Linked DNA regions of Homo sapiens: regions 1, 2 and 4 are each linked to region 3. The links come from fine-mapping of genetic effects on gene expression. A gene starts in region 3. Each other region holds a variant in brackets. All regions are shown on one strand. Distances are from middle to middle.

Evidence for each region. PIP is the estimated chance that this variant, and not a neighbour inherited with it, causes the effect. A credible set is the group of variants that fine-mapping cannot tell apart.
Region 1: its variant is the best candidate, but not a certain one, in a credible set for the expression of AMIGO2 in whole blood (INTERVAL, PIP 0.88).
Region 2: its variant is the best candidate, but not a certain one, in a credible set for the expression of AMIGO2 in lung (TOPMed, PIP 0.54).
Region 4: its variant is the best candidate, but not a certain one, in a credible set for the expression of AMIGO2 in monocytes after LPS (Quach 2016, PIP 0.58).

The regions. Positions count from the first base shown.
Region 1 is chr12:47,204,037-47,209,187 of GRCh38, reverse strand. The region is part of intron 2 of PCED1B (PC-esterase domain containing 1B); the gene reads right to left. PCED1B-AS1 (PCED1B antisense RNA 1) reads left to right here. Exons shown (of 3, transcript NR_026544.1): 3 at 1-768. Among named protein-coding and RNA genes, the nearest start is that of PCED1B-AS1, 9.8 kb to the left of the region's middle. The variant T/C (reference allele first, on the strand shown) is at 2,810.
Region 2 is chr12:47,183,824-47,188,974 of GRCh38, reverse strand. The region is part of intron 2 of PCED1B (PC-esterase domain containing 1B); the gene reads right to left. It overlaps MIR4698 (microRNA 4698), which reads right to left and starts at 1,163; the gene lies at 1,084-1,163. The variant T/A (reference allele first, on the strand shown) is at 2,342.
Region 3 is chr12:47,077,381-47,082,531 of GRCh38, reverse strand. It overlaps AMIGO2 (adhesion molecule with Ig like domain 2), which reads left to right and starts at 2,573. Exons shown (of 3, transcript NM_001370299.1): 1 at 2,573-3,070; 2 at 3,284-3,390; 3 at 3,467-5,151. The coding sequence starts at 3,530. The coding sequence ends at 5,098. It overlaps PCED1B (PC-esterase domain containing 1B), which reads right to left and starts at 2,911. Exons shown (of 4, transcript NM_138371.3): 1 at 2,807-2,911.
Region 4 is chr12:47,341,208-47,346,358 of GRCh38, reverse strand. LOC124900322 (small nucleolar RNA SNORA64/SNORA10 family) reads left to right here and starts at 62; the gene lies at 62-193. It also overlaps the pseudogene PPIAP45. The variant A/T (reference allele first, on the strand shown) is at 2,695.

The DNA.
Region 1 (5,151 bases), 130 kb before region 3:
GAGGGCTGGTTCTGCCTCAAGCCAATCAGCTGACACTAAGCAGTGAAGCCGGAATCTGAGGTCCCTCTGCCTGCCCTGGTCTTTGCTCACCCTGACAACCAGACACCTCACTGTGTCCTGAGCAGCATAGATGCCACACGCACAGTGCCACATAGAGAAGGGTGATGTAAATGAAAATTAAAACACTGTGACAAAGTCAAGCAGGGCATTTGTTTTTGTTGTTGTTAAGTTATTTTTGGTAGATACAGGGTCTCACTATGTTGACCAGGCTGGTCTTGAACTCCTGGGCTCAAGCAATCTGCCTGCCTCAGCCTCTCAGAATGTTGGGATTATAGACATGAACCACTGCACCCGGCCAGTGTCAGTCTTTGTTCCCTACAAGTGAAATCAAAACAGCCTCACGCCTGTAAACCCAGCAGTTTAGGAGCCCAAGGTGGAAGGATCGCTTGAGCCCAGGAGTTTGAAACCAGTCTAGGCAACATAGTGAGACCCTATCTATACAAAAATAAAAATAGCCTGGGCAGGGTGACTCATGCCTATAATCCCAGTACTTTGGGAGGCCAAGGTGGGTGCATCACTTGAGGTCAGGAGTTCGAGACCAGCCTGGCTAACATGGAGAAACCCTGTCTCTATTAAAAATACGCCTGTAGTCCCAGTTACTCGGGACGCTGAGGCAGGACTGCTTGAACCTGGGAGGTAGAGGTTGCAGTGAGCCGAGATCGCGATACTGCACTCTAGAGCCTGAGTGACAGAGTGAGACTCCGTCTCAAAAAAATAAAAATAAAAAATTAGCTGAGGGTGGTGGTGCGTGCTATACTCAGCTACTCAGGAGGCTGAGGTGGGAGGATCACCTGAGCCCAGAAAGTCAAGTCTGCAGTGAGCTATGATCGTGCCACTGCACTCCAGCCTGGGAGATGAGACCCTGTCTGAAAACAAACAAACAAACAAAAACCAAAATGGCTAAGTTTACAGCACCAAGTCTATCCCTTAACAGTATGACTGCTTTGAGTTCAGGCACGTGTCTAAGGGCAGCCGGTTCAGAGACCTTGACACCTGGTGGAGTCACAGAATCAAGACCCTGGGAAAACTTCTTATAGCTTATTTATTTAAAGCTTTACAATTGTTTACACTGCTCAGGAAAAAAAGAAAAAAAAAACCCAACAAATTATGGGTGTTCAGAGAGCTGTGTTAGCCCACAAAGTTCGAGGGAGAAACTGTCATTCACAGAGCTTGATTAACCACAGACTTAAATTTCAGGAGGAAGTAAGCTATGAAAAATCTGTAACCTCTGCCTGTCATATGCTTAGTTTGTTAAAGAAAACTAGAGAAGGAGCTTGTTATTCTTTAAATAGAAAAGCTCCAAAAAGCCCTAAAATGTTTTATCTGAATAAGTTCTCTCAGTAGGTATCTTAAGAATAATAGATTATAGTCAGGGGTTAGGGGCCAGCTCACAAGACTGATGCAAGTTCTTTAAGTTGTGATTGTGTCTGATGAAGAGGAATGCATACTTACATATTTGTGTAAGGAAGATTTCCTTATTGTCATTTCCTTCCATCGCTTGGTCCATAAAAGCAAAGAGGAAGGAAGGGAGGTCTGTGGTCATACACACTGTCACCCATGCTAAGAGAAAAGGTAGTTGAGAGCTCTGCCTGCCCACGTGCCCATCTGCTGGGTCATCCTTGTCCTATCAGGAGAGAAAGAGCACTTCCTTTCCTCAGTGGGACTGGGAGGAGGCAGCAGCCTCAGGCAGCTGGAAGGTGTGCCCCTGGGCCTCACACAGCTCTGGGGAGGTGGCACAGGGCTTCCTCTTTCATAGAGCTAATTAGGTTCTTATCTGTGCTACCAGATGAGCCCAGCTGCCAGCTCCTTACTTCATCTCAACCAATCCAACAGGCTATTCAAACCAACACTGATATTATTCTAGCAATATGTTTATGTATTTTGGACAAAAGTTTAAAGTAATTTAGTCCTCCATCTGTCACCTTCAGGCTAAAGTCCTTTATTTTCTTGGTGCATTGACCATGGGGCTCCATCTAGGCTCTGAAAGGATATTCCCTCAAGGCCCTGAGCTAGAGACCACAGGGTAACTCTACATGCTGTTCTCCTAATAAGATTTTGGTAACATCTGATTGTTTGCTAAAATCCCATTCAAAGCTCCTTCTACCTGGGCAGAGCCTGCCAAGTTGAGTTCAGCTTCAGTTGGATGAGTATGTCAAAGTCCCTGGCCATTCGAATAGCCATTTACCTAAGGCAAGAGCAAATGCTGGCTAAAGCATCTAATCACCATTTATTTATGTTGGTGATGTTGGGATTTGAGAGCACAGAGTGGAAGGTAGAAACAGGGTAGTGTCTGTAACTACCGTCAGATCTACTTCTTCACTTTCATTTTTAACATACAAGGTCCTTAAAAAAACCTTGGATTTTTTTTTTGTTGCGGGGGCGGGGTAGAGATGAGGTTTCGCTATATTGACCAGGCTGGTCTTGAACTCCTGGCCTCAAGTGATCCTTCTGCCTCAGTCCCCCAAAGAAAACCTAGCAGTTGAAAAATGATCAATTCATATAAAGAGAAACTGAAAAAAGACTTTTGCCTTGTCCCCAGCAGGCTGAGGAATTACCAAGGAGGCAGGAGGTGGAGCAAAACACACCAAGCCTGGTGCCAATCATTGACAATATTATGGTTAGTACTTACTGAGGGCTGACTATGGTTGAAACTGCCTTTGCAAAATTATGACTGAGACGGTGAAAGAGATCTAACTTAACCAACGCTAGCTATCTTGCCTCTAACCTCCAAGCTGTCCTTGTTCATTCC[T/C]GGGCATAGGCTGAACTAACTTTGGGAGAAATTTAGTTTATAGTTTGAAACAAAGATGATAACAGCCCTTTGCCAAAGCAGACCTCCTTCTTGTCTGGGGACTAGATGGCCTTTGTAGGACTAACATGAGCCACAAGATTAGAAATTATGGATAGGAGTCATGCAGCTGGAGTCTCCAAGATTCTGACCCTCCCTAAACTGCTCCCAAGATCAATGCTTGAGATATTTTGCAGACCCTGCATGTGATGGATCAGCTGACACCATCCAGATCGGTAAACTGGTTCATCTGATCTTGTGCCCTCCACCCAGGAACTGACTCAGCGCAAGAAGACAGCTTCGACTCCTTGTGATTTCATCCCTAACCAATCAGCACTCCTGGCTCACTGGCTTCCCCCAACCCACCAAATTGTCCTTAAAAACTCTGCTCTCCAAACGCTGGGGGAGACTGATTTGAGTAATAATAAAACCCTGGTCTCCTGCACAGTTGGCTCTGCGTGAATTACTCTTTCTCTATTCCAATTCCCTTATTTTGGTGAATTGGCTCTGTCTACGCAGTGGGCAAGGTGAACCCCTTAGGCGGTTACATGGTTATTGCCCCTTTTTTTTCCTTCCTTCCTTCCTTCCTCTCTCTCTCCCTCTTTTCCTCCCTCCTCTTCTCCCTCTTTCCCTCTCTTTCTTTCCTCCTATTCATAAAAACCTATTGAAACTGACTTTGCAAAAATTACAACTAAGAAAATTATGTCAGTGAAAGAAATCTGACCTAACTGACTCCACCTTGCTTCTAATTTCCAAGCTGTTACACCATTCCTGGGTATAGGCTGAACTAACTTTGGCAGGAACTTAGTTTATAGTATAACTTTGAAACAAAGACGGTAACAGCCCTTTGCCAAAACAAACCACCTTCCTACCTGAAGACTACACTGTCTTTGCAAGACTACCACCTTAGGTACCAGATTATAAATTATGGTTTAGGAGTCATGCAGCTGGAGGCTGCAGGATTCTGAACCTTTCCAAATTGCTCCTGGGGATAACGTCACTATAATAAAACCTAAGATCAGTGCTTGAGGTATTTTGTAGACCCTGTACTCCATGGATCAGCTGGTACCACCCAGATCGATAAACTGGCTCATCTGATCTTGTAGCCTCCATCCAGGAATTGATTCAGTGCAAGAGGACAACTTAGACTTTTTATGATTTCATCTCTGACCTGATCTATCAGCACGCCCCACTTTCCAACCCCCTACCCATCAAATTATCCTTAAAAACTCTGATCCCTGAACTCTGGAGAGGCTGATTTGAGTAATAATAAAACTCCAGTCTCCCATACTGTGGCTCTGCACGAGTTACACTTTCTCTGTTGCAATTCCCCTGTCTTAATAAACTGGCTCTCTCTAGGCAGTGGGCAAGGAGAACCTGTTAGGTGGTTACACTATTGGCTACATTAGTTTATGGTTACAGTATTTACATATAACCTCAATTACAAGGAAAATTAAATGATTACGGAGGCAACTGAACTAGAGTATCCAGATTCTTTTATACTAGGAGTCACTAAGTATATAGTATTTATTGCTAAATTAGAAATAAATGTTATGGCCCATCTGTAGACAATAAGGCAAATTCAGAGGAGCAATTAAGAGCCACCCAGAACCTTGACTTTTAGATGCATGACCTGCCTCCCCTGGTCTGTAGGCAGTGGAGGATTAAGGAAACAAAGTGCAAGGTAGCCCTGGGAGTAAATTAACAGCATAATACACACTTCAAGAACACCCAGAGATCTGTGAGTGAGACCAGGAGTTGCAAAGTTAAATGGCTGTAGGGACCAGACATGAGATACAAATGAATAAATGAGCAGGGTTTGTTCTTTGTATATAGATTCACTTTGCATATTAAACATGGAAGAGTATCAGGAAGTGAAGGACCTCTTCAAGGAGAACTACAAACCACTGCTCAAAGAAATCAGAGAGGACATAAACAAATGGAAAAGCATTCCATGCTCATGGATAGGAAGAATCAATATCATGAAAATGACCATACTGCCCAAAGCAATTTATAGATTCAATGCTATTCCCATTAAACTACCATTGACATTCTTCACATAATTAGAAAAAAAAAATTTTAAATTCATATGGGGGTTGGGCGTGGTGGCTCACACTTGTAATCCCAGCACTTTGGGATGCCGAAGCGGGCAGATCATTTAAGATCAGGAGTTCGAGACCAGCTTGACCAACATAGCGAATGAAACCCTGTCTCTACTAAAAATACAAAAATTAGCCAGGCATGATGGCACATGCCTGTAGTCCCAGCTACTTGGGAGGCTGAGGTAGAGGATCGTTTGAGCCTGG
Region 2 (5,151 bases), 110 kb before region 3:
CAGTGACCTAATCAGAAGCAGAAATGAAAATGGGGCAAAATGCCATGTGGGGGCATTTTGCAATAAGAAGCAACAGGAGTCTGGCACCTAAATCCAGCAACTGTGTAGCCAGGGTTGGAAAAAGTCCAGGTTACCAGCAACATGCCTGTTTTTTACGGAGAATGAGTGAAATGAATATGCTCCCAATGGTCCTCTGAGTTCTTCACATTCATCCCAACTCCCTTGCTCCTCTGCTCCAGCACTGCAGTGGAACTGGATGGCTACAGCTTACATTGCACGTTTCAATTTGGGCGATGGATGAGAACTTCTGTACTATGTTTGCATCTGCAAGACTCTGCTACTCTTGTTTTTAACTTCTGGATGTTCAGGTACACATTGAAAAAAGGAAGTCCTTAACTCTGAGAAGCAGTATCGTCCTGAAACTACCTAAGAAATGGCTCAAATCCTTTCAATTTCCAAGGAAAGCAAAAGTTACACATTAGAAACTGAGATGACAATACCTAAGCATATAATTTCATTGAGATAGATTAGATTAGCTTCAGGGACATATATGGCTCACAGTATATTCCATGCTTCTCCATAGGCCAGGAAGATTTGCAGCTAACACCCTTCCTGAATTCTTGTCCCTATAGGGCTTTTGTGTGGGACATCATTGATCCCTATGAGTTCCAGCTGAGGAATTTATGACATATTCTATTCCCCCCTGAGATTAGCCTTTAATAATTTATTTATTCATCCAACATTTAAGAGACCCCAATGGTGTTAGATGCTGGGAACCCAAAGACAACTAAGGCAAGATCACTGTCCCCAAAGTCCTTAGTAAGGGGAGATAAGACATGTAATTTTTAAAAGCCACAAAATGCTATGGTGCCATGACAGAGGTATGTCTGGGGAACAGAAGGGACTCCAAGAAGGAAGAGGTGCTTCCAGGTAAGACAAACTGTGGAAATAAAGCAGCTATAGGGCAAAGAACTTGTTGCAGTCAGGAAGATGCAGGTAGATCAGGTGACCAATTACAATCCTGTTCTTGGAGCTGGTAGGATAAAGGACAGACCCAGGTGGAAGAGGCGCAGGTGAAAGTTTTGCTCCTTCTGGGGTCTTCCTCTACATTTTGACCCAGGCCCGTCTAGGTGGAAATGTAGAGGAAGACCCCAGGAGAAGCATAACTTTCCTTTAACCCATATATCACAAGACTTGGCTGCCTTATGATGAAGCTATAGTTCCCAAATATGTCTTCAATGAAGAAAATTTAATGTTTAGGAATTCTAGAACTTGCAGAGTTGGGAGTTGCCTGGGAGATGAAATGTTCTCTCCATCACCTCCAGCCCTTGGTGCTGAGTTCATTAGCATGTTTAGTTCTAATTTTAGCTATGAAAAAATATATTTTAAAATATTGACACATTTATTATTTAGTGCTGGATTTAACTGTTTACACTTTCACTGATAAAAGATTAAAAATATGTCTTACTATATACTGCTGCCTATAGTTAAAACAGCATCCCTGTTTCTCTTTTTCTCTCTTGTTCTCTATTTTTGAAACTGAGTTAATAATCCCCTTGATGTAGAGATGGGGGATTTTCATCAGTACCAGATCATTTCACCTGCCTTTTCTCCTCCCTGAGATTTCCAATTTCCTGGTGCTTCCTTTTCACTACATTTACCACCCATTTCTTGGTTTTAGGTAAGATCCCATGGTCTCTCCCTATGAACACTATCTCTCACATAGTGTCAGCATTTCTAACTTCTTACCCTGGAGCTATCCACCTGGATCTTTCACCTAAACTCCTGAGTGCTTCTGGAGAAGGTAAAGATCTGTTTTGAGATGAATCTCAAACACTGTTAAGTAGGGCAGCATTTCTAAAGTCCACAGAGCAGCACAGTGGTCCACCTTCAAGTGTGATAGGCACTACCCACTACCTCCCCAAGAGCCATTTTCCCTTCTTTCAGTGTGTTCAGGTGGTAAGGAGAGATCTTTGCTTCCAAGGAGAGTGGTCCCCGACTCCAGGATAGGCCTAACCAGTCATGGAAATCTCCTTCCCTTTATCAATTGGTTGTTCTTGGTTTGGGCATTTGACCTTGTTCTGGCCAATAGGATATAAAAAGAAATCAGCTGGAGATATCCTAAGTAAAGACAAGATTTTGTGCTGTGTTAATTTCCTTGGGCTGCCATCACGAAGTATCACAAACTGGGTAGATTACAACAGAAATGTAGTATCTCACAATTCTGAAGGCCCTCAGACTGAAATAAGGTGTCAGCAGGGCCATGCTCCTTCTGAAAGCTGTAGGGGAAAAAACCTTTTCTTGTCTCTTCCTGGCTTCTGATGCTTGCCAATGAAGGGGT[T/A]TGGATTATGCCACCCCACAATATGCCACTCTGGCATATGGATTATTTTGACTTGAAGGCAACTGAGAAAAAGCAGACCCAGGATGAGATCTCTGTCCGCCTCCTATCTGCCTGAAAACAGAACATAAGCTCCCCTTGTGAAAGTGCCCCCCTCTACCCCCCTACCAGTAAAGGGATAACATAAAGGGACAACACCTTATCACTGGAGACAAGATGTCATCCAGAGGAATCTACAAAAACAAAACGTATTAACTAGCCCTCATCTACCATAAGTTTCCCCATATATTTGCCTTCCCACAATTTGCTGCCCCTAGAAGCTCAAAGTCATTTTCCTTTGTCTTGCCACTTCTCTACAAAATTATTGTTCTTTGCTCAATTCTATGTAAGTTCAAGTTCTTTTTTTTTTTCTTTTTTTTTAGACGGAGTCTCACTCTGTCACCCAGGCTGGAGTGCAGGGGCGCGATCTTGGCTCACTGCAACCCCTGCCCCCTGGGTTCAAGCAGTTCTCCTGCCTCAGTCTCCTGAGTAGCTGGGATTACAGGGGCGTGCCACCACATCTGGCTAATTTTGTTATTTTTAGTAGAGATGGGGTTTCACCATGTTGGTCAGGCTGGTCTCAAACTCTTGACCTCGTGATCCGCCCACCTTGGCCTCCCAAAGTGCTGGGATTACAGGTGTGAGCCACTGCACCAGACTAAGTTCAAGTTCTAACCACTCCTTTGAATTACTTATTACTGAATACTCCTATGTGTATGTGCAATGCATATTTCAATAAACTTGTTTGTTTTTCTCTTGTTAATCTGTCTTTTGTCAGTCTAATATACAGTCTTTTTTTTTTTTTGAGACTGAGTCTAGCTCTGCTGTTGCCCAAGCTGGAGTAGTAGTACCACGATTTCAGCTCACTGCAACCTCCACCTCCCAGGTTCAAGCAGTTCTGCTGCCTCAGCCTCCTGCATAGTTGGGATTACAGGTGCCTGCCACCAAGCCCAGCTAATCTTTGTATTTTCAGTAGAGATGGGGTTTCAACATGTTGGCCAGGCTGGTCTCGAACTGCTGGCCTTAAGTGATCCACCCCCGTCAGCCTTCCAAAGTGCTGGGATTACAGGTGTGAGCCACCGTGCCGGGCCACTCTAATATGCAGTCTAATTTTCCCTAGCTGGAGAACCTAGGATGGGTACAGAAAAGGTAATTATTTTCCTCTCCTACACCAGCAATACTTGGCATTCCTCGGCTTGCAGCTTCAATACTTCAACTTCTGCCTCCTTCTTCACAGGGCTGTCTTCCCTCTGTGTGTGTCTCTGCCTTCACATAGCGTTCTCTTCTTGTGTCTGTCTCTGTTTTTTCTTTTTGTAAGGACATCAGTTATTGGATTAGGGCCCACCCTGGTTCAATATGACCTCATCTTAACTAATTACATTTGCATTCCAAATAAGGCCACATTTGCAGGTATCTGGGTTAGGATATCAACATATCTTTTTTGGGGACACAGTTCAATCCATATAAAGGCCTTTTGCTCCTGCCTTTCATCTACCTGGAGATGCAGCAACATCTTGTGACTATGAGGCTACAAACATGAGGAAACAAGTTTACAAGCTAAAGCTGGTGGAAAGGAAAGCTAGGGAAAAAGAAGGAGTCTGACAGCATTACTACACAGTTGAACTACTGCCAGCAACCACTCACCTCTAGACCTCTTGCTAGGTAAGAAAAATAACTCCAGGTTACTTAACCTCTGCCAGGTTTCTTTCACCTGTAGCCAAAAACATTCCAATGCATACACAAAACTTTCCCTAGTTCATAATAAAATTAGAAAAATAAGTAAGGTAATAAAATTTTCATAGATCTGGATTCATTAAATTTAAAGGACTAATCTTTGTTCTGAAATTATGTTATTCCCACTTTTAAAAAATTAAAATATCCTTTCTTTTATGAAATGACGGTATTTGTAGATTGTAATTTTTTTTTTTTTTTAGTGTCTTTGGTAAAAGAAGGAAGGAAAAAGGGAAGGGAAAAAGGAAGGAAGGAAGGGAAGAAAAAAGATTTCAGAAAGTCTTTCTCTAATTTTTAAAAATTCTTTTACTTAGCTTGTGAAACTCAAAAGTCTGTGATGAGAAGAATGCTAGCTAAACTTGCTTTGAAGGGCTAGAACCAGTGGTGTGTGCTGGAGCTGCTGGCAGCAGTTACCGAGAGCAGATGGTTAAATTTCCAGGAAGCTACTTGGCATCACCTGGATGGTTTGAAATCCAATGTGGCGGGAGTATTTGCATCATGGAAATCTGCAAATGCTATAAATCAAACCACCTCCCCTTCCCCAGCTGGTCGTTTACCAGCACACCACTGTCTCCAGCCTGCCTCTTGCAAGTAGCCAGAGGGTAAGCATGCAAGGTACAGCTCACACCAACTAAAACACACATGGGATTGAGGTAAACTTCATTTACTAATTTATACATTTACAATGGAAAATATTCTTGGCCTGGTGCGGTGCAATCCCAGCACTTTGGGAGGGCCAAGGTGGGAGAATCGCTTTAGCCCAGGAGTTCAAGACCAGCCTAGGCAACATAGGGAGACCCTTTCTCTACAAAAAAGAAAAAGAAAAGAAGAAAAAGAAAAATATTCTCTCTATTGCTGGTTTAAGTACCTAATGGTCTATTTTCCTCAATAAAATGTCAGCTCTGCCTCAGCAGGAACCATATCTGTTCTGTTCATGCAGTATCCCCACTGCCTAGCATAGCACCAACTGGTGCGGGGGCCCTTGTCTTCCTTGGAGTCATGATCAGAGATTCTGTAGTTATCAGAACACTGAAGGAATCAAA
Region 3 (5,151 bases):
AAAATAATTTAAGCTAAAAAAGGGGGTGGGGTGGAAAATATAATTAAAAAGGAAGTAAAAGTATGCAGTGGCCTTCAGGTACTACCAGATCCAGGACTCAAATAACATTTACAGGACTCCTCTTTCTCTTTCTTCTCCTTTTTTTTAAGACAAGCTTTCAAAGCATAAAAGGCAGGACAGCAACCAGCAGATTCAGTTGGGGTAAACCGTTATCTTAACCACTTTGAATAGGTTCCCTGTTCATCAGTTCATTTATCAAAAATTTATTGAATGTGTTAAGCAGGGTTCTGAGAGCTGAGAATACAGCAATACACAAAACAGATAAAACTGCTATCCTCTTGGAATTTACCTTCTAGTGGAAAGAGGGAATCTGTTAGAAGGAGAAGGGATGCTAGAAAGATAAAAATGTTATCCTCCACAAAATAAGGTCACGTCTTATACCTTAAGATCAACTCTTATCTTTCTTTCCTCCCAGCTAGTAAACTCAATCCTTTTACAACGTTCTTCCCTTTCACAAACATGTGAAATCCCCCAAATCAGGTCTTCAAATGGATAAATAGCCTTGTCTATGGATTTTGAGTGCATTTAGTTTACTTTTGCTGTGTAATCTCTGCATAATGTTTCTACAATATGCCTGTAGTTATAATAATATAACCTTCCTGTTTCCATTTTTTTGAATCACTTATTCTTTTTAGACTATTTTTGCATTAAATACAGGTCTTTCTTCTGCCTTCATGGTTTCCTTAAAATACGATGTTAATTAGTAAAATCCTGCAAAAACCTGGTCATTTATTAGTCATTTAAAAAATATTCCTCTGAGCGATTTTAATTCTATTCCTCTGTATTAACTATTCTAACTCTATAAAATTGAAGTCCTGGAGACCAAGCTTTTGAGAATCCCAGGAAGTGTGGCCTAATACTAGAAAATCTCAACTTCTGCCTCTCCCCTTTAAGTACACAGTAAGAAATGCTTGCATGAAGCATTTTAGGCTGTGTTCTTATGATAAAATTCAACTTTCATGAAATAAATTAATCTGAATCAAGTTGTCCTCATCTGAAAATGCCTAGATTTATTAGTGCTAGCCCGGCTTTATTCCACAAACAATTCTATTTAAATTAGGTGTTGGTCTAACAAATCTGCCTGACCACAGCAATGACTCACGGACCATGTAGGAAACAACTTTCACTAAATTCAAGATTGCTCAAGTGAAAAGGTGCGCGGGGGAGGGGAGGAAGAGTTGGTTGTCCTCATCATTTTTATTTTTAAGTAATATTACAAGTTATCTATCCTGCCCCAACTGTTTCCTCAATTTGGTTGCTTTTCATTCCACTGTGGTTGGCATCTTTTGTCAAGGCAGTAATTTATTTCTTTTAATCCGGATATAATGGCCAAATGGGCGATCTGACTCACTCAAATCCCATCGTTAAAACTTATCTTGGAATTAAACAAAAATGGATTTTTAATCGTAGAGCTCATCAGCCTCATAGTCTCCACCTCATTTCTGAATGGCCTTGTTCGGCTTGCACCTTCTGTGCTTGCTGAACCAAAGCGCGCTGGTCGGCCGCGGCATCTCCGGAAGGGATGAAGAGCCTCCGCGCACACGCCCCTTACTTCCCTGTCCCGCACGCGCCACGAGCACGCTTGCAAAAGACGGGGAGGTGGCGGGGACAGAGACAGAGGAAATGAGAGAGAGAGAACGAAAGAGAAAGGAGAGAGAGGGAGAGAGAGAGGGAGAGAGAAGAGGGGAAGGAGAAGAGAGAAAAAAGAAAAAAAGGTCTGCTCTGGGATTATTATTATTATTTGGGTTAATACTCTTATCTTTGCATTCCAGCCGGAAGGTCGGCTCCAAGCCTTCTTTCCTGCCCTCCTCCTTCTTGAATTGGACACCATCCCTGTTGCCGCCTCCTGAGTCAGGAAAGGGATAGAACTTTCCCAGGGAGGTGAGGGGTGTCCCCGTGGCGATTTCCCGGTTACTTCCTCCCAGCAGATATCCCTGTGGAGAGGAAACGTTCCCGACTTCCCTCCCCGCGACCTCCTCCCTAGAAACGAGCGGAGACGTCAGGCTGCTTCTGGGTTTATTTTGTAAACCCAGACAGTCAACTGCACTTGGCGCAGGCAAAGCCTCCTTGGCCCTTGCCCCAAAGCAAAGCTCTAAGAGGTCCGGGGATTCCTTGGCCTGGGTGGGGAGAGAGACGTGACCTGTGCGGCCGCCGCGAAGTGGGTCTCCAAGGGTGAGACCCCTCCCTCGGTGGCTGGGCGTGTCCCCTTTAGCCTTCCTGGACCCCATTACCGCCCGGCTTGGAGCTGGACGAAGGGACGTAATTGGTAGGCGAGTGGGTTGGGCATCTTGACTCAAGGACCAGAGTCTGGGCCTCTGGTGTGGACCCCTGCCCCCTCCCCGCTCTGCGCGGCCGTTCTAGAGGTCCGGGTGGGAGCTGGAGGAGGAAAGCGGGAGGAGGCGGCGAGGCCGCGGGGCGGTATGAGGGGGCGCCGGCCGCCTCTCGGATTGGCTGCGCCGCCGCCCCCTCCGCATCGCGCGCCCCCCACCACGCGCCCAGCCTGCTCCCTCCCGCAGGCTCCGAGCTGCTGCCCGCAGGAGGCAGGACGCGCAGGGGTGGGACCGGCGCCCCAGCCCGTCTCCCGGCCCCGGGCGCGCGGGAACCCCGGGTCCTGCAGCCTCCCGAGTGCGGAGAGGCGGGGCCGCCCGCTGCCGCCCGGCTGCCTGCGCCCCCTCCCGCGGCCCCGGCTCTGGGAGCGGGGCGCCCCGCGCGCGGGCACACGGCGGCCAGAGCGCCGAGGCGGTACCTTCAGCCTGCAATGAGAGGAACCCGGGAGAGCCCCCGGGAGCCAGCGAAGAGCTTGGCTGCTGCGTCCAGGGCTGCTGCTGCCGCCGCGGCTGCTTGAAACTCCTCAAAGTTGAGAGCCGGCTAGAGGGTGCCGCCCGCCGGGAGCCGGAGGGAAAGGAAGTCGGAAGGTGCAAGAGTGACAGACACGGACAGACGGACGCGCAGACCTTCGGAAGGCACTGCGTAGGCAGCCTCCCCGGAGCCCACGAGGCTCCCCAGCACCGTGAGTTTTTTCCTGGATGGGTGGTTGCTAAGTATTTCCGTTTAATTGTTTGTAGCGTACGTTTGCGTATAGTTGTGTCTGTTGGAGGGAGTTTAAAACAACAACAACAACAACAACAACGCAGGATGCACCTTAGGAAAAAATTGAGTTTCTGATGGTGGGTGAGACGGTGGGTTGTATGGAGAGAATGTGACTGTACATTTTTATAAGCAGGACTAACCCAGGAAAGAGGAAAAAATACATTTAACAGTGAAGAGGCAACACAGAGCTCCCTATTGTGAAATAAAACCCATTTCAAAAGTTATTGGAAAGAAAGTAAGGTATGGCTCTTATGGGTTAACTAGTGGTAGTCAGTTTCTGCTTTTTACTCCCTCTGAATTATTAATTGTTTGCCAGGTTCACTGGTGGGAGGCTGAGCCGGTGGAAAAGACACCGGGAAGAGACTCAGAGGCGACCATAATGTCGTTACGTGTACACACTCTGCCCACCCTGCTTGGAGCCGTCGTCAGACCGGGCTGCAGGGAGCTGCTGTGTTTGCTGATGATCACAGTGACTGTGGGCCCTGGTGCCTCTGGGGTGTGCCCCACCGCTTGCATCTGTGCCACTGACATCGTCAGCTGCACCAACAAAAACCTGTCCAAGGTGCCTGGGAACCTTTTCAGACTGATTAAGAGACTGGACCTGAGTTATAACAGAATTGGGCTTCTGGATTCTGAGTGGATTCCAGTATCGTTTGCAAAGCTGAACACCCTAATTCTTCGTCATAACAACATCACCAGCATTTCCACGGGCAGTTTTTCCACAACTCCAAATTTGAAGTGTCTTGACTTATCGTCCAATAAGCTGAAGACGGTGAAAAATGCTGTATTCCAAGAGTTGAAGGTTCTGGAAGTGCTTCTGCTTTACAACAATCACATATCCTATCTCGATCCTTCAGCGTTTGGAGGGCTCTCCCAGTTGCAGAAACTCTACTTAAGTGGAAATTTTCTCACACAGTTTCCGATGGATTTGTATGTTGGAAGGTTCAAGCTGGCAGAACTGATGTTTTTAGATGTTTCTTATAACCGAATTCCTTCCATGCCAATGCACCACATAAATTTAGTGCCAGGAAAACAGCTGAGAGGCATCTACCTTCATGGAAACCCATTTGTCTGTGACTGTTCCCTGTACTCCTTGCTGGTCTTTTGGTATCGTAGGCACTTTAGCTCAGTGATGGATTTTAAGAACGATTACACCTGTCGCCTGTGGTCTGACTCCAGGCACTCGCGTCAGGTACTTCTGCTCCAGGATAGCTTTATGAATTGCTCTGACAGCATCATCAATGGTTCCTTTCGTGCGCTTGGCTTTATTCATGAGGCTCAGGTCGGGGAAAGACTGATGGTCCACTGTGACAGCAAGACAGGTAATGCAAATACGGATTTCATCTGGGTGGGTCCAGATAACAGACTGCTAGAGCCGGATAAAGAGATGGAAAACTTTTACGTGTTTCACAATGGAAGTCTGGTTATAGAAAGCCCTCGTTTTGAGGATGCTGGAGTGTATTCTTGTATCGCAATGAATAAGCAACGCCTGTTAAATGAAACTGTGGACGTCACAATAAATGTGAGCAATTTCACTGTAAGCAGATCCCATGCTCATGAGGCATTTAACACAGCTTTTACCACTCTTGCTGCTTGCGTGGCCAGTATCGTTTTGGTACTTTTGTACCTCTATCTGACTCCATGCCCCTGCAAGTGTAAAACCAAGAGACAGAAAAATATGCTACACCAAAGCAATGCCCATTCATCGATTCTCAGTCCTGGCCCCGCTAGTGATGCCTCCGCTGATGAACGGAAGGCAGGTGCAGGTAAAAGAGTGGTGTTTTTGGAACCCCTGAAGGATACTGCAGCAGGGCAGAACGGGAAAGTCAGGCTCTTTCCCAGCGAGGCAGTGATAGCTGAGGGCATCCTAAAGTCCACGAGGGGGAAATCTGACTCAGATTCAGTCAATTCAGTGTTTTCTGACACACCTTTTGTGGCGTCCACTTAATTTGTGCCTATATTTGTATGATGTCATAATTTAATCTGTTCATATTTAACTTT
Region 4 (5,151 bases), 260 kb before region 3:
TGATTGTGGCAGAGATTAATGGTGACCAAAGAAACTTAACAAGTTTTAAAATTATAAAATAGGCCTCTCAGTGCCGCTTAATCACACAGGTCCAGTGTGTGCTTGGTGTCTTTTCTGGGAGGCAGAGGAAGGCTCTCCTAATCACAACAGACCTGCCCAGAAGGGCCTCTCTATTTCTAGGAGTATGATAGCTTTTGGGGGGAAAAAAAAGAAAATAATGGATGCTGCCGGGTGCGGTGGCTAATGCCTGTAATCCCAGCACTTTGGGAGGCTGAGGTGGGCAGATCACGAGGTCAGGAGTTCAAGATCACCATGGCCAACATGGTGAAACCCCGTCTCTACTAAAAATACAAAAATGATTTAGGTGTGGTGGTGGGCGCCTGTAATCCCAGCTACTCAGGAGGCTGAGGCAGGAGAATCGCAATTATCATGTATCAATAAAAATTTTATTAAACTATCATTCATAGCATCCATTCTTTTCTTTCTTTTTTTTTTTTTGAGACAGAGTCTTGCTCTTGTTGCCCAAGCTAGAGTGCAATGGCACAATCTGGGCTCACTGCAACCTCCGCCTCCTGGGTTCAAGTGATTGATAAATGATAATTGTACATATGTATGGGATACGTGTGATATGTATTAAACATGCATACAATGTGTAATGATCAAATCAGGGTAATTGGGAGATTTGTCACTTCAAACATTTTTTTATTTTTTATGTTGGGAACATTCCAAATATTCTCTTTTAGCTATTTTGAAATATACAACAAATTATTGTTAATTATAGTCACCCTACTATGCTATGGAACACTAGAACTTATTCCTTCTAATTGTATTTTTGCACCTTTAACCAGCCTCTCTTTATTTCCCATCCCCAACCTTTCCCAGCCTCTAGTAATTATTATTCTACTCTCTACATCCATGAGCTCAATATTTTTAGCTACCACATATGAGTGAGAACATGCAATATTTCCACTTCTTCTACCCATTATTCTGGGCCTGGTTTATTTCACTTAACATAATATCTTCCAGTTCCATCTATGTTAATGCAAATGACAGAACTTCATTCTTTTGTGGCTGAATAGTATTCCATTGTGTATATGTATACAATTTTTTTTAATCCATTCATTGAGGGACACTTAGGCTGATTCGATATTGTGACTTTTGGGATTGCTGAATTGTATGGCACATCTATCTTTAGTTTTTAGAGGAAGGTCGATACTGTTTTCCACAGTGGCTGTACCAGTTTCCACTCCCCCCGGTAGTGGACTAGTGTTCTCCTTTCTCTGCATCCTAACCAGCATTTGTTGTTGTTTTTTTTGATAATAGCCTATTTTAATGGATGCTATCAATAATATAATTTAGTAGGATAGTTTTAGTGATACCTTTTTGAATTTATATTTTCATAACTTGTGAAATGTCCCTCACACCTCATCTTTTGGCCTCTTCTCTATCTCTAAGATTTTGCAAAACCTTGCACACATGCATGACTCGGAATGCCAGGCATAATGGAAAGTTGCCACACAAGAAAAGAAAGAAAAACTCGGCTAGGCGTGGTGACTCAGGCCTGTAAATCCCAGCACTTTGGGAGGCTGAGGTGGGCAGATCACGAGGTCAGGATATCGAGACCATCCTGGCTAACATGGTGAAACCCCGTCTCTACTAAAAATACAAAAAACTAGCTGGGTGTGGTGGCACGTGCCTGTAGTCCCAGCTACTCGGGAGGCTGAGGCAGGAGAATCGCTTGAACTTGGGAGGCGGAGGTTGCAGTGAGCCAAGATTGCACCACTGCACTCCAGCCTGGGCAACAGAGTGAAACTCCATCTCAAAAAAAAAGAAAAAAAGAAAAACTCATTTCTGTTGAACACTTTTTAACATGAAAAAAAGGTAACTTTTTTTGGTAAGTGATTCTAGTGGTGGTGTATGGAAGACAGGAGGGTGGTCAGTATCAGAAGAGATCACATTCAGCTCAAAGAGTTCAAGAGAAGATAGAGTTGGAAAACATGCTGTTCTACCTTTATGCTACACAATTTTAAACTAAAGGACCTCAAAATGGGTTATTGTTCACATTTTCCATAATTCTCTTAGTGAGACTTGCATTTGTGGTCATCAACAGTGAATCGCAGTAATTACCTTGGAGAGAGTTATTGGAAACAGGCCACACAGTAGAAGATCCAGTGACATGTGTAATGATGTAACCAGCATTAAATAAATGGACCTAGGGAACTGAAGAGACAAGCAGGTCTGTATGGTTCCAATATAAACAGGTTCCCAAGAGTCATGACATTGTGAGTCATGATGGTACCGCTAACTTTTTTTTTGCAGGGAGGCAGTATAATATATAATTGGTAAGATTAAATCTTTTAAGTGTACAACTTTATGAATTTGGACAAATGCATACAGTCATATAACTGCCACCACAATTAAGATTTTCAATGTACATCTTAAACTAATCACAGTCTAGATTCAAGGAGTATTCTACCTCTTCACTGTGTGGTGCCCCAACTGGTGTACTAGGGTTATGGCTGTCATACATTTTGCTTTTACATATGCTACACACCCACAAAACTACTGTACTTTCCCTGTACTCACTCTTTTCCCTGTTTTCACTACTACTATTTTTAAAATTTAGCTAATCAATTATCTTTTACAGCTATTAAAAGTCAGAAAAAGTCTTTTACGTTTATCTTCATTTTAACC[A/T]TTTCTGGAATCTTCATTTCTTTGTGTAGATCCAACTTTCTCTCTGGTATGTAGAACTTAAGCCTGAAAAACTTCCTCTAATATTTCTTATAGTCCGCTTCTGGGTAATGAATTCTCTGCTTTTGTGTGAAAAGTCTTAATTTCTCCTTCATTTTTGAAAGATATTCACACTGCGTATAGAATTGTGGAGAGTTATTATTTTTCCCTTCTCTCAGCAGTTTAAACATGCCAATTTGTCTCCAGACTTGCATGGTTTCTGAAGCCTGCCATAATTCATTTTTTTCATTTTTTTATTATTATACTTTAAGTTCTAGGGTACACGTGCACAATATGCAGGTTTGTTACATATGTATACATCTGCCATGTTGGTGTGCTGCACCCATTAACTTGTCATTTACATTAGGTATATCTCCTAATGCTATCCCTCCCCCAACCCCCCACCCCATGGCAGGCACCGGTGTGTGATGTTCCCCATCCTGTGTCCAACTGTTCTCATTGTTCAATTCCCACCTATGAGTGAGAACATGTAGTGTTTGGTTTTCTGTCCTTGTGACAGTTTGCTCAGAATGATGGTTTCCAGCTTCATCCATGTCCCTATAAAGGACATGAACTCATCCTTTTTTATGGCTGCATAGTATTCCATGGTGTATATGTGCCACATTTTCTTAATCCAGTCTATCATTGATGGACATTTGGGTTGGTTCCAAGTCTTTGCTATTGTGAATAGTGCCACAATAAACATACGTGTGCATGTGTCTTTATAGCAGCATGATTTATAATCCTTTGGGTATATACCCAGTAATGAGATGGCTGGGTCAAATGGTATTTCTAGTTCTAGATCCTTGAGGAATCACCACACTGTCTTCCACAATGGTTGAACTAGTTTACAGTCCCACCAACAGTATAAAAGGGTTCCTATTTCTCCACATCCTCTCCAGCACCTGTTGTTTCCTGACCTTTTAATGATTGCCATTCTAACTGGTGTGAGATGGTATCTCATTGTGGTTTTGATTTGCATTTCTCTGATGGCCAGAGTGAACGGGCAACCTACAGAATGGGAGAAAGTTTTTGCAATCTACCCATCTGACAAAGTGCTAATATCCAGGATCTACAAAGAACTTAAACAAATTAACAAGAAAAAATCAAACAACCCCATCAAAAAGTGGGCGAAGGATATGAACAGACACTTCTCAAAAGAAAACATTTATGCAGCCAACAGACACATGAAAAAAGGTACCGCTATCTTTTTGTCATGGTGGGAAATGTGAAATTATCCAGGAATGGCATCTGTGACAATAAAGAAGATGAAAAGATGATTCCTAGACCAAAATAGGAAGAGATGATGTCTGGATATTTGCCCTGATTTGACAATAAATAAATATGTAAGCATCTCTTCTACTCCTTTCTACCCATTATTCTGAATTTTTATTGATAAATCACTATACTTTCCAGAGCCCACACAATTTGTAAAGCATTTTCAATAAAACTGTTTAGTTAGGCAAGGCTTCTTAAAATGTATACATATATTTTCCTTGCTTTGCAGATGGATGCCTCCCAGAGCCACCTGCACCCGTCATGGTCAATCCCACTGTGTTCTTTGATGCCATCATCAACTTGGGCTGTGTCTTCTTTGAGCTGTTTGCAGACAAAGTTCCACAGACAGCAGAAAATTTTGTACTTGAGAGCTGGCGAGAGAGGATTTTGTTATATGGGTTCTTACTTTTACAGAATTATTCCAGGCCTTACGTGCTAGGGTGGTGACTTCATGCCATTATGGCGTTGGTGACAAGCTTATCTACAGAGAGAAATTTGATGATGAGAATCTCATCCTGAAGCATACAGGTCCTGGCGTGATGTTCATGGTAAATGCAGGACTCAGCACAAACAATTCCCAGTTTTTCATCTGCACGGCCAAGACTGAGTGGTTACATAGCAAGCCTGTTGTCTTTGGGAAGATAAAAGAGGGCATGAATATTGTGGAAACCATGGAGCACTTTGGATCCAGGAATGGCAAGACCAGCAAGAATATCACCATTGCCAATTGTGGGAAATGCTAGTAAATTTGACTTGTTTTATCTTAACCACCAGACCATTTTTTCTGTAGCTCAGGAAAGCACCCTTCCACCCCATTTACTTGCAATATCCTATAATCTTTGTGCTCTCACTGCAGTTCTTTGGGTTCTATATTTTTCCTATCCCCTTCACATCTAGCTGGATTGCACAGTTAAGTTTATTAATTATGAAATAAAAATTAAATAACAATAAACAATTTTCCAGGGGCCCTATATATCCCACATAGTAGCAGCTCTGCTTGGCTGTGACCCTATGTTTGAGAGTTAACAAGTATTAATTGATGCACTACATACGGTAGTATCATGTTCTGTCAAATGCTGTTATTCCAGCCCCAAAAAACTGTATAAGGCAAACCTTGCCTTAAGAGCCATGGTCTTGCTGGTA